Linked DNA regions of Homo sapiens: all the other regions are linked to region 3. Evidence: fine-mapped expression QTL. A gene starts in region 3. Each other region holds a variant in brackets. All regions are shown on one strand. Distances are from middle to middle. Region 1 overlaps LINC02213 (long intergenic non-protein coding RNA 2213). Region 2 overlaps ANKRD33B (ankyrin repeat domain 33B). Region 3 holds the start of ANKRD33B (ankyrin repeat domain 33B).

What was found. PIP is the estimated chance that this variant, and not a neighbour inherited with it, causes the effect.
Region 1: its variant is the best candidate, but not a certain one, in a credible set for the expression of ANKRD33B in whole blood (TOPMed, PIP 0.88).
Region 2: its variant is the best candidate, but not a certain one, in a credible set for the expression of ANKRD33B in skeletal muscle (FUSION, PIP 0.85).

The regions. Positions count from the first base shown.
Region 1 is chr5:10,508,805-10,513,032 of GRCh38, reverse strand. The region is part of intron 1 of LINC02213 (long intergenic non-protein coding RNA 2213); the gene reads left to right. Among named protein-coding and RNA genes, the nearest start is that of LINC02212, 8.2 kb to the right of the region's middle. The variant A/G (reference allele first, on the strand shown) is at 2,405.
Region 2 is chr5:10,589,928-10,594,155 of GRCh38, reverse strand. All of the region lies in intron 1 of ANKRD33B (ankyrin repeat domain 33B), which reads right to left. Among named protein-coding and RNA genes, the nearest start is that of ANKRD33B, 28 kb to the right of the region's middle. The variant TTA/A (reference allele first, on the strand shown) is at 1,704.
Region 3 is chr5:10,562,447-10,566,674 of GRCh38, reverse strand. It overlaps ANKRD33B (ankyrin repeat domain 33B), which reads right to left and starts at 2,605. Exons shown (of 4, transcript NM_001164440.2): 1 at 1,842-2,605. The coding sequence starts at 2,207. RefSeq lists enhancers at 149-650, 942-1,031, 1,052-1,101, 1,422-1,631, 754-1,647 and 1 more and silencers at 752-801, 1,772-1,821, 2,162-3,021.

The sequences.
Region 1 (4,228 bases), 54 kb after region 3:
TCTCAAAAGAGAGAGAGAGAGAAAGAGAGAGAGAGAGAAAAAGAAAGAAAAGAAAGAAAGAAAGAAAGAAAGAAAGAAAGAAAGAAAGAAAGAAAGAAAGAAAAGAAAGAAGGGAGGGAGGGAGGGAGGGAGGGAAAGAAAGAAAGAGGAAAGGCAAGGCAAGGAAAGCACATCAGGCTGGGCACAGGGGCTCACGCCTGTAATCCCAACACTTTGGGAGGCTGAGGCGGGCAGATCACTGGAGGCCAGGAGTTCGAGACCAACCTGGCCAACGTGGTGAAACCCCCATCTCTACTAAAAATACAAAAGTTAGCCAGGCATGGTGGCACATGCCTGTAATTCCAGCAACTTGGGAGGCTGAGGCAAGAGACTAGCTTGAACCTGGGAGGTGGAGGTTGCAGTGAGCTGAGATTGCGCCACTGCACTCCAGCCTGGGCAACAGAGTGAGACTCATTTTCAAAAAAACAGAGAAGCACACCATCCCTCCATGTCTACAGTCTAGTGTATCCCATCCAAGGGAAGGTTTGTGAGACTGCTGTGTTGGGATGTGCAATGCAAGCTCTCGTTCCCACCGCTACGGCTGTCCAGCAGTTGTCCCTCCTGCTTTGGCCCCTCCTATCTGAGAGGATCTGGAAATCCATAATCTCCACTTAAAGACGGATTCAGGAAATCAGACCCAACCTCTCTAGGACATTTGCTGATCTTTTGTTAGAGGATTGAATGCTGCTAAACTTACCCTACTTGGCATTTTCTACTTGGACAAAAATCTCTTTGCTTCCTGGATGAGTCTGTAAATCCAGTTGGTGTCATTTATCGGTAACATATTAAAATGCTGAAGAGAATTCTTTATTTACTGGCAGGGGGCATTCATTTGGCAAATATTTACTGAGCATTGCAGATAATCATTATTATGATTGTTGTTCAGCAAATATTTATTGGATGCATGTTCTGTGCAAGGTACCATTGACAAACAGGAACACAGGAGATAGAGTGGATTAGATAGACACCGTGGCTCTGCACATGAGATTCCCATCTGTCTGCTAAGGAGGGTGACCAGCTGTCCTGGTTTGCTGGGAATTGAGGGGGTTTCTGGGATGTGGTACTTTCGGTGCTGAAGCAAATCTGGCCTAGCACAAACTAGACAAGTTGGTGGCCCCACTTAGCAGACAGCTGGTCATCCTATTGCTGAGACAGACACTAAAGAACTAACTTCATGGTTATTTATTCCTTGGAATTGTTGTCGGTATTGTGAAGGGAGTGCACAGTGCTGTGAGGGCTTCTAAAAGATCGAGAACACAGCCCCACCGAAGCCACTGCCTCTGGTGGCCCACTGGAACCACCCCCTAGGACCTAGACTGCTTTTTGGGGCTCACAGGGTGGGCCCCTGAGGCCTGTTGCCTCTGGAGCCAAGGCCAGAACTTCCTGTGGTATTCTAGAACAGCAATGGCCAAATGTTCCGGCGGAGGCCACTGCCACTGTGGATCTGCCCTGGCTTCCGCAGAGCCTGGTAGGGTCTCAGCAGAACACTCCCCACCACCCGGAGGAGACTTTCTCCGTGATGGGGCCATGCTGCCCTCCACTCCACAGTGCCAGGGAGGTTTGTGTGGGTAAGAGAGGCTGCATGGACTGAAATTGTGTCCCAAGAACTCATGTCTTTCCTGGAACTTCAGACTATGAACTTATTTGAAAAGAAGATCGTGGTGCATGTAATTAGTTAAATTATCATTATTATTACTGAGACAGAGTCTTGCTCTATCACCCAGGCTAGAGTGCAGTGGCGCCATCTTTGCTCACTGAAAACTCCACCTCTTGGGTTCAAGCGATTCTCCTGCCTCAGCTTCCTGAGTAGTTGGGATTATAGGCACATGCCACCATGCCTGGCTAATTTTTGTATTTTTAGTAGAGATGGGGTTTCACCATGTTGGCCAGGCATGTCTCGAACTCCTGACCTCAAGTGACCCACCCACCTCAGCCTCCCATAGTGCTGGGATTACAGGTGTGAGCCACCGCGCCCGGCCGCCTTTTTTCTTCAGCATTTCCCTTGAGTACCAGTTACTGCAAAGACCTCAGGAGTCGGGAGTTTGAGACCCCAGGCTGCTCTCAAACTCCCGACCTCAAGTGATCTGCCCTCCTTGGCCTCCCAAAGTGCTGGGATTACAGGTGTGAGTCACCACACTCAGCTGTAATTAGTTAAGTTAGGTCAGGGTCATAGTTGTGCAGGATGGACCCTTAATCCAATATGACTATCCAAGATACCCAGAGATAGTCACACAGGGAAGAACGCCACAAGGAAACAGAAGCAGAGATTCGAGCGATTTCGAGAAACAGAAGATTCGAGAGATGCAGCTGCAAGCCAAGGAATGCTAATGCTTGCTGGCAACCACTAGAAGCTAGGAAGAAGCCA[A/G]GAGAAATCTTTTCTGGAGGCTTCAGAGAGCACAGCCCTGCCAGCGTCTTGATTTTGGACTTCCGGCCTCCAGAACTGTGAAAGAATAAATTTCTGTCATGTTAAGCCACCCAGTTTGGGGTACTTTTTAAAGGACAGTTTTAGGAAACTAACACAGCCTAAGGAAACGAACGTTGCTGTTCCAAAAGCTGATAGATTATTGAGAACCAAGCTCTCTTCCCCGTTGCATCCCCTTCCCAAAAGCCCCCTCAGTGGGTTCCAGAAGCACCCCCAACCCTGCCAGTCACCCAGACACAGCCCTCACCGGGGTGGGCGTGAGCAGAGAATGACCACGCCCTCTCCCTACGCTCAGTGATGCCTGCCCCACACACTTTGTATTTTCCCTTATTTTGAAAGTTATCCATAAAAGAATGTGTATGTTTTATAATCAGAAGGAAAAAGTTTAAATGAGCAAACAGATTCTCTTTTGGCAAAACATACACAGGTTTCCTATTTCTGCTCCTCGTATAGCCGTAGCCATAGAGTGGACAAACATTATTATTTTCTAACCAATTTATTTTGTCTTGAATTATTTATGTATTATAAAATGAGCTGTTCAGGAAGTAAAATATAGACTCTTTCTTTCTTTCTTTCTTTCTTTCTTTCTTTCTCTTTCTCTCTTTCTCTCTGTCTGTCTCTCTCTTTTTCTCCTTTCTGTCTTGCTTCCTTTCTTTTCCTTTGGCATCTGGGGTTGTGTCCTGACTCCTCTTAACTCGGGCGGGGCTGAGCTGTGCAATCTGCTCAGCGCACCTCTCCACAGCTACGCTAACCCAGGTGACCTGCTTACACCGGCTTTTCCTCTTTAATCCCTGAGTTGAGGATGGAAAACACTGGCTGTTCTGATTTCATTAGGCGGGCAGATGGTATTTGCTAATCACGTAGACAGTCTCTTGAAGACGCCTGTTAAAATGAATGCTGCTCAACATGTTTGGTTCTGATTTACTACATCCCATAGATGGAAACATAAAGACAGAGAGGACCGTGAGAAAAACTGCAATGCTGATGAAGTATCACTCGGCCCTTTTCGTTTCATTCACTGGCTAATCATGAGATGTAGGGAGTGTCCAGCCTTTTCCATGTGTCGGGTATGCAGACAGGATGGAATGTGGTCTATGTATTAGTGAGGCTCCCATCATGGAGGAAGGGTGCAGGGCATACCTGGGCCTCCAGATACACCTGGGACAAAGCCAGGCTCCCTCTCCAGTGCTCATCTCCGCCTCTGTCTGAATTCAACTCCTCCTACTCTAGCCTGGCTCTTCCACAAGCAAGGACCCTCCAGGGGAAGAATGTGCTGCTTCCTCTCAAGCCCAGAAATCCCAGGGAAGGGCTCTAATTGGCCCCAATAGGGTCAGGTGCCCAGCTCTGACCAATCAGTGGTGGCCACGTGGGGAGAGTCTGTTAGATCATGGCAGCTCTCTTTAGAGCCATGTGGTTATGGTGGGAAGAAGGAACATCTCCCAGAAGAAGGTTGACTATTACCCTCAGCAGACAAAAGAGTCAATGTCCGCCACATCCCTGCTCCAGCGATCTGGGGTGAGGGTCAATTAAGGAATGTGAGGAGTGCTATGACCACCAGATGCACAAGGGCCTCTGTTAACAGGGAAAGCTGAGTTCTTCTCTTTAACACTGGCCGCCACTGGTTCTCTTTCATCCGAGGTTTGACAATAAAACTGAATAGCGAAAGTAGAGGTGGAGAGCCAGTGTTGCAAGAGAGCCTTAGTGTGGTGGGGAATTCCAGCTGATAGGGAAAGAGAGAGAGAGAGAGAGAGAGAGAGAGAGAGAGAG
Region 2 (4,228 bases), 27 kb before region 3:
TGATCTCTTTAAACATCCCTCCCTGAATAAGAGTGAAAAAAAGCTTTAAATAAGGAATAGGTCTGTGACAATGAAGAGAATTCCTGCCCTTGGAGAGGAGAGAAAATCCCCGTGAGCTGACAGCTCCCACATGTGGTTACTCCTCGCTGTTGAGTCTCTAGGCTTTGCTCACTGCAGAGACTCTGGGACAGGTTCTGCCTTGCCACGGGACCAGAATTCGGCTCAGAGACAGCACAGGCCTTGGGTCTGAAAAAACTGTAGCTCAACAGCCAAGAGTAGTCTTGCAGCAGAAAAGGAGATGAACTATCCTTAAATGGCAGAGGGTTCATGAGGGGGTGAGGGTAAGTGAGTTGAGAGGGGTGGGGGTTGTGCTGGAATGGGGATCCAGGTGAGCCAGGGTCAGGGAAGTTGAGCCAGGGTGAGGGGTTGGGGAGTGAGTGGGTCATTGAGTCGGGGTCTGATGTTAGCCCCCCTGCCCGGGAGGAGAAGAGGTTGGAGAGAGGCTGGAGAGGTGAAGACTCAGAGCTCTGGAGGTGAGCTAGGGTTGGAGGAGTTGGGCTGGAGTCATGGTGAACAGGAGGTTGACCCAGGGTGGGGTTGGGATGAGCAGGGTAGGGTGTCGACTGAGACAGAGGTGAGGTACAGTACAAGGCAAGTTAAGGCACTAAAAAGTAAATGTCATACAACAAATGTGTAGATGACCCCTTTGAGAAGCTCCCCACTCAAATATCCAGTGTCTAAAGGGGAGGAAAGTATTCTGTCATTGCAGATGGGGTCGTACATTCATTGATGGTACAGGTTTTTGCTTTATTTTGTTTTTTCTTAAAAGAGTTAATAGCTAATGCTTTAAAAAAAAGTAAACAGAGCAAAATATATTATCTGCGATAATAATTTAAAATATGTTACTGCACAGAAAAAAAGAGAGTCCTATTATGCCAGTTGACTCAACTAATAATAGCTGTAGTGTTATAATATAAGGGTTAGTTGTTTTCTACTTTTAGAATCAAACTATAGATAAAGTTGAAATAATAAGCATAATTAAGATCCAAGAAAATGTTACTAGTCTCGTAAGTGGAAAGCTAGCGAAGACAATATGAGGGGTGGATACGGGGTGGTGGGAAAAGGTTAGGAAGGTCCTTACCTAACAGAGGAGAAGTCAGGAAATACCAGCTAGAATTGATGGAGAAGGAACTGGGGTTGAAATAACATATATAAGAAACTAAAAGAATACATATGAAAAAGGATGGGTGGATGGGTCTGATCAGAGGGGTGAAAAGGGCAAGTCAGCAAAAAACTCCACTACCATTGCACACAATCATCTCCACTGCCTCAAATGGACAAACCAAGAGTAGCTATGATGAGCAGGTTGCAACTGGCAGGGAGGGGACTGCCAGATGAAATGAAAGTGGGAACAGTGGCAAGAGACAGCTCTGAGGAGCAGACAGGTGGCCAAGAAGCCTGGGGTCTCTCACTGCAAGCTCATCTGCAGGATTCTATTTTCTTTTCTTTTTCTTCTTCTTTTTTTTTTTTTGACAGAGTCTCACTCTGTTGCCCAGGCTGGAGTGCAGTGGTGCAATCTCAGCTCAGCTCATTGCAACCTCCACCTCCCGGGTTCAAGCGATTCTCATGCTCAGCCTTCCAAGTAGCTGGGATTACAGCCGCCACCACGTCCACCTAATTTTTTTTTTTTTTTTTTTTTTTTT[TTA/A]GTAGAGATGGGGTTTCACCATGTTGGCCAGGCTAGTCTTAAACTCCTGACCTCAGGTGATCCGCCCGCCCTGGCCTCCCAAAGTGCTGGGATTACAGGCATGGGCGCCACCGCGCCCAGCCAGGATTCTATTTTCTATCACATATATGCTCTGTTTAACAAAAATAAGAGACAAGGAAAGTAGAATACTAACAAGAATAAAGTTTTCCCACAAATTGGTGAGAAGAAAATAAAGCAGATGGCCCAAAATAAGACCCTGTCTTTAAAGGGGAACATGTGTTAAAGGAGCAATCTGGGCAGTGATGGATGACTCAACCAACATTGCTGGAAAAGTTGATTACTGAGCAGTAAACACACACACACACACACACACACACCATAAAATCAAAAGATAATACAAAAGGACTAAAAAGTCAAGGGTATAATATATATACATACATACATACATACTTATATCCTAAAATAGTTTACTGATGGAGAAAAGAGATTCAAAAGCTAAAAATAATAAGATAACAATAAATATACAATGTAAGTTACTATATAAATACAATATTCCCTTATATCAAAATTATAAGTAAAATTGAAAGAAAAATGAAAAAGCAATCAAGATTAGTGACATTCACAGAATGATTTAAACAGAAATATTATATTGAATATCAGCATAAATACACCAAGAGTACAATTTTTCAAGGGTAAAGGAATGAGTAGAAAAACCAAAAAATAGCAAAAAGCCAGTAAATACATGTAAAATATACATAATCTTACTAGTAAGCAAAATAATGTAAATTAAAATATTAATGAGACACCATATGCTTAACAATAAATATTACATTTCAGATCTTCACAAAAGATGAATTCATTAATAGTTCTGGACAAAAGTCCCAGTCATACGGAAAAAAAATAAGGTTGGATCTTTATCTCACATCTCAGGCTGAAATGAATCATTAAATATTCAATCATAAAAACACTAAAAAGGCTCGGTGCGGGACAGCACTCTGGGAGGCCAAGGGTGGCAGATCAAGAGGTCAGGCGTTCGAGACTAGCCTGGCCAATATGGTGAAATCCTGTCTCTACCAAAAGTACAAAAAAAATTAGCCAGGCATGGTGGCACGCACCTGTTGTCCCAGCTACTCAGGAGGCTGAGGCAGGAGAATTGCTTGAAACTGGGAGGGGGAGGTTGCAGGGAGCCCACATGGTGCCACTGCACTCCAGCCTGGGCAACCGAATGAGACTCCATCTCAAAAAAAAAAAAAAACCACTAAAAAAAATGTAGATGACTATTTCTATAAACCTGGCTTAGAAACAGCATTTTGAAGCAATAGAGCAAGGCCGGAAACCATAAAGAAATAGATACATCTGACTGTATAAAAATTTAAACCTTCTCAGCAAAACAGTGTAAAGAAAGTAAAAAGGCAAATGACAGGGACTCTCACTTTCAGCTCTGAGAAACTGGCTTCAATCAGAGGCACTTTTCCCCTGAGAACAACTGAATACTTTTTTTCCCTAAATATCCATTTGGAGGCATCCAGTTTCCAAGACGACCAGGACTTGCAGGCCTGATTGTATTCCAGAAAGAAGGCGGAAATCCTGAGATAAGCTTCCATTCTCATGGCTTTCCCTAAGGGCATTTGCTGAGTAAGGCTGGGTGCTGAGAAACCAAGCAGAGAGCAGTAGTGAAGGGTAGGAGGAGCTAAGCAGAGTTGGTCATACTCTCGAGGGTTTGCAGGGAGGGGTATCCAATCTTTTGGCTTCCCTGGACCTCAATGGAAGAAGAATTGTCTTGGGCCACACATAAAATATACTAACACTAACACTGGCTGAAAACACACACACACACACACACGCGCGCGCGCGCGCGCGCATCTCAAAATATTTTAAGAAAGTCTACAAATTTGTGTTGGGCTGCATTCAAAGTCATCCTGGGCCTCATGTGGCCCGCAGGCCAGGGGTTGGATAAGCTTGGGTTAAGGAGACAAAAGTGGTATTCATGATCTGCCCAGGCCATATTTCTATAGGAAGCCAAAAGGGCTATATCCTACAAGACAGGCCAGAAAGAGGCCAGATCTTATAAAAACTACAACCTAGACTGCAATCTTCTGTCCCACTCTGTCTGCCAGAAGCAAACTAAATCCTCCCTGGACAAGATAACACAATCTAGTGCTACTTCAATTTTCATACACAATGTCTAGCATTCCAAAAATTACCAGATGTATCAGGAGACAGGGCCAAGAGAAAAACAGAAAATAGAAAACATCCCCAGAAGATCCAGAAATTAGAACGATCAAGCTTTAAAATAACTAATATGTAAAAGCAAATAATGACAAATGAGGAACTTTATTACAGAACTAGAATCAATAAAGAATCAAAAATTTTAGAAATACAGCATAATTGAAATTAAGAATGTAAAAAGCAATTAAATAGTAGATTAGGGTAAAGATATGATTAGTGAATCAAAAGATAAGTTTAATCAAAAATGCCCAGAAAATTAAAAAAAAAAAAGATTTAAAAGATAGGAAGAAAAGC
Region 3 (4,228 bases):
TTACGTTGCTGTCAGTTTTCTTCAATGCAGCTGTTTTCAAACATTTATGTTTTGCCCCTAAAGGAAACATTATATAAAGCTGAGCCCAGTGGTGCCCTAGAGTGGGGACTGGGCGAGCCAGGCCCCTCCTGTGCCCATTCCAGCCCACTGGAGACCACCAGGCTGCCCAGGACAGGGGGAGAGGCCCACCCCACCTGTTCCTTTATGAGCTTGGTGAGGCTTCCTTTAAAGCGGGCCCCCATACTGGCTTCCAGAAAGCAAGGTTTCTGATTACACACATCTGGGCCTGAAAACTCAGTTAAACCAAATGTAGAACTTGAGAAACAGGCCCTAGGACTTCGGGTGGAGCTCCAAGCCCTAATCACATGCCAGCCAGGGCATCTGTCGCCAGGGCTGGGGGAGGAGGCATTGCAAGAGGAATGGCAGCAGGAACTACAGGGCTCCAGGTGATGCTACCTACGGGGACGCCACCTCAGGTCTCACTGCCTAACATATGACAAGCACAGACCCTTCCTCCAAGTTCAAATGTTGTGTGATATGGTTTGGCTGTGTCCCCACCCAAATCTCATCTTGAATTCCCACGTGTTGTGGGAGGGACACGGTGGGAGGTAATTGAATCACGGGGGCAATGTAGTACAAGGGGAGAGTGACATTGGAGGGCTTCCCATCCACCTAAGCCCAGCCCAAACCACAGTCAGGGCAAACCACTTGCCCCACCCACTGCAGGATAAACCAAAGGCACAAGGTCACCCGGGTCCCCAAGTCAAAGCACATGTTTTCTGTCAGCTGCAGGCTCCTGAGCAAAAAGCATGTGCATTTGTGCTAGGCTGCATCTGCAGATACCACGGTCCTTGGACAATACAAAAATCAGGTGAGAACGCTGCCATTTGCCCACTGAGCACAGACTACGGGGAACTTGGCCACCGTGGTCACTCTGCAGTTTTCCCTTGAAGTGCTTTGCTTGGTGGAAGGTGTTCCACCAGCCAGTCCTTCTCAGGTCTTCTTAAGCCAACTTTTTTTCTTTTCCTTTCTTTTCTTTTCTTTTCTAAACATCTCGTTTTCTCTGAATCTGGTCATAACGAAAGGATAGCCTGTGCCTGCCTCCACGCCTCCTGCCCTACCCGGGTGGATGCCCGCGGCTCTGGGGCTCTCCCTATGCCCTGACTCTGGGGAGCCCCGGCTGGCATTGGCTCGCGAAGGTGACCTGCGGACAGACCAGTCAGAGATCACGTTGGCTGGTCGCGGCGCGGGCCACAAAGCTCAGCGGAGGTGGGGTAGGGGACCAAGCTGTCCCGGCGAGGGAAGAAACTGTTGCTTCCAAATCATTGCGGCTGGAGGAGCCGATCTGCGCCCCAGCGTGTTAGGACAAGGGCGGCGCGAGGGGCCCAGGGGCCAAATGGGGCGCTGGGCAGGAGGGGCTGTCTCCTGCAGGGGAGGAGGAATGGTCCCCTGCCAGGGACCTGGGGAAAGGTAATAGTCAGGAGGGGACCGGGCCGCAAGAAGCCCATCCTGGATTGCAGCACGGGCAGCCAGCGCGAATTCAGTCAGGAGGTCCACGGGGACCGGTAAACGAGAAGGGGATGCGGTGAGGACGCCGGACTGGCGTTTCTGCCGCGCTGACACCTCGACTGCTCCCTCCCCGCACCGCGTCCCCCAGCCTGAGACGGGGAAGCCACCCAGGGCACCGCGCTCCCAAACAGCGGGGAAAAGGCGCTCTGGGCGGCGGCTGAGTGACCGAGGGACCGGTCCGGAGCCAGGAGCTGGGAGGCGCGGGGATGTGGTGGGGAGGAGGGGAGTGGGGGCAGTGAGGGGGCTCAAATCCTGCGGGGACGCCCGCTTACCCTGCCGTTGCGGTCAGTCTCCTGCGCCTCCTCGACGCTCACCCCGCGCCGCACCAGCGTCCGCAGCAGCCCCACGTTGTTGGCGCAGGCGGCGCGCAGGAGGGTCGCCGTCTCCGGGACGCTTTCCGGGACGCCCTCCGGGACGCTCTCCGCGCTCTCGACGCCGTGCTCCTCCTCGTCCTCGAAAGGGTAGAAAGAGTCGTCCGAGGCGATGCTGCGGGTGTCTGGCAGACTCGAGAAGTCCTCAAACTCTTCGTAGTCAGCGGGGTCCTCCTCGACCTGCGCGCCCCGGGGTGGGGACGGCGGTGGTGGGGTCATGCAGCGCGCCCCGCCGCCCTCCGGCCCGGTCCCGGCCAGCAGCACCATGCCGGCGGCCGGGGCGCGGGCCGGGGGCCGGGGCGCGGGCAGGAAGAGCGGGACGCGGGGCGCGCGCCGAGGTCCCCGCTTCTCGCTTCTGCGTCCCCAGAGAAGCCGTGGCCCGCGCGCTCCAGCTCGGCGGAAACCGGCACCAGGCGGCTGCGCTCAAAGAAAAAAGTCTCCGGAGGCTGAGCGAGCCCCTGGGGTGGGCGGGACCGCGGGGGCTTTCCGAGGCGGGGCGGGGCGGGGCGCGGGGACACGCCTTCCCCCGGGGCCTTCCCCTCGCGCCCCTTCCTGGCCAGAGTTCAGAGCCAGGCAGGCGCTCTCTCGAGCGCGGGGACTGGGCACCTGGCAGCGTTGCCCCAGAGCTGGGGACAGCTGGCGCGGGAGAAGCAGAAGCAATCACTAAAGAAGCCGAACCCGAGTCGCGGGCGGCAAGCGGCCCCGCCCCTCCCTCCGCCGGCCCGCGGGATGGGGGCGGAGGTGGCGGCGGGGGGACGCCGGGGCGGAGCCGGCCTCCAGCTTCGGGAACCTCGGACCCCTGGAGCCGGCCTCCGCCGAGGGCGTCGGGCCCCCGGACCTGGGTGGGGCCGGTTTCTCCCGCCGCTTCAGAGGAGCAGAGCGGGTTTTCTCCCTTCGGGGGATCCCGGGCTTCGGGGCTGACTCCACCCGGCCGCGGCCGCTTGGAGGCCGGGGAATCCCCGGGGCGCTTGGCGGGCAGAGGAGCCGGGCGCGGGAGCGGAGCCGTCCACCTGGGACCTGTGCCCGGGGAGCGCTGCGGGCCGGGCCACTCTGAACTGGGGGCGGTCGGCTGCTGTGGGGGAGTCCCAGCCCGGAAGGGAGGACAATCCTCAGAGTCCCCCGTCTCGCGGAACCGGGGCCGGCCGTGGCTTGAGGGTTGGTCAGATCCTGGGATGGGGGGCGGGGTGTTCCGGAACCTCAGGGAGCATCTGAGTGGGAACGGACGACGAGGAACTCCCCGTCCCCATGCCTGGCCTGTGTCACGTGCGGGGATCTGCGGACTCACCCCCGGAGGCTGCGACTGGGCGCTGACCCCACGTCTGGCTGCCCAAAAGAGCAGGGCCGCGGGCGACAGCCGCAGTCCAGGCCCACAGCCCCTCTGGCCCGGCCTTGCCCTCTCCCCGTCAGTCCTGGCGCCGGGGATGGGCGGGGAGGAGGAGGGCGTGTGAGGATTTGCCACAGGGAGCCCTTGACTTCGGGGTAGGAGGCGTCGTGAGCCAATCTTGGGGGAAGGTCTCTGCGCAAAGGCGCGGAGGTGCGCTCGCGCCCGTCGCAGGTCAAAGACTGCGGAGGCCACCAGCCCTGTGTCCCCCTAGCCTCCTTCCTTCCTTTTTTTCCCCCGATCTTGACAGCGTGTCCACCAGCTGCCAGCCGGTGGGAGGCCCTCGCGGCCCCAAGGTGAACACAGCTAGGCTGGCGCAGCCGCTGGGGACCAGGCTTGAGGCCCACGTGCCGCTGGGCAAGCTGAGGGGCACGAGGGCACCGAATCCGAAACAGCCGTGGGAGGTGTAGGATGAGGACACGTTTAAACTGCGAAGCCGCTCGAGCCCTCGTGTCACACCGCACTGGCCCGACCCGCTGTCCTGGTCGCCTGGTCTTCCAGTGTCTCCAGCAGGAGCCAAAGGGCCTGCTGGCGGCCCCCGACCCGGCATCTGCAGGGCCCCGGAGGGTGGGGCGCGCGGGAGCACCGATTTCTGGTGAAGACGCCCTCGCACCTGGGCGGCTCTGAGCGAGCAGCGAACTGAGACTCGCTGGCCTCCTTCTCTACTCCGGGGATTCTTTCTGCAACCAAAAATAGCCCCCAGATTACAGTAAACTCTACCTTTTTGTGTAACTGACCACAGTTTGCATCAATTCCCACTGGGAATTTCCCCTTTCAAGGTTGAGGGTTGTTTCCAAAGGCCTGGGGTAGTTACAATTTCAAGTGCCCCCTGAGGGCTGAGTTGGGTTTGCTGGACCCACTGTCCTCCCAGGGAGAGCACTGCGTCACTTTACAGCAAGAGTCCCGG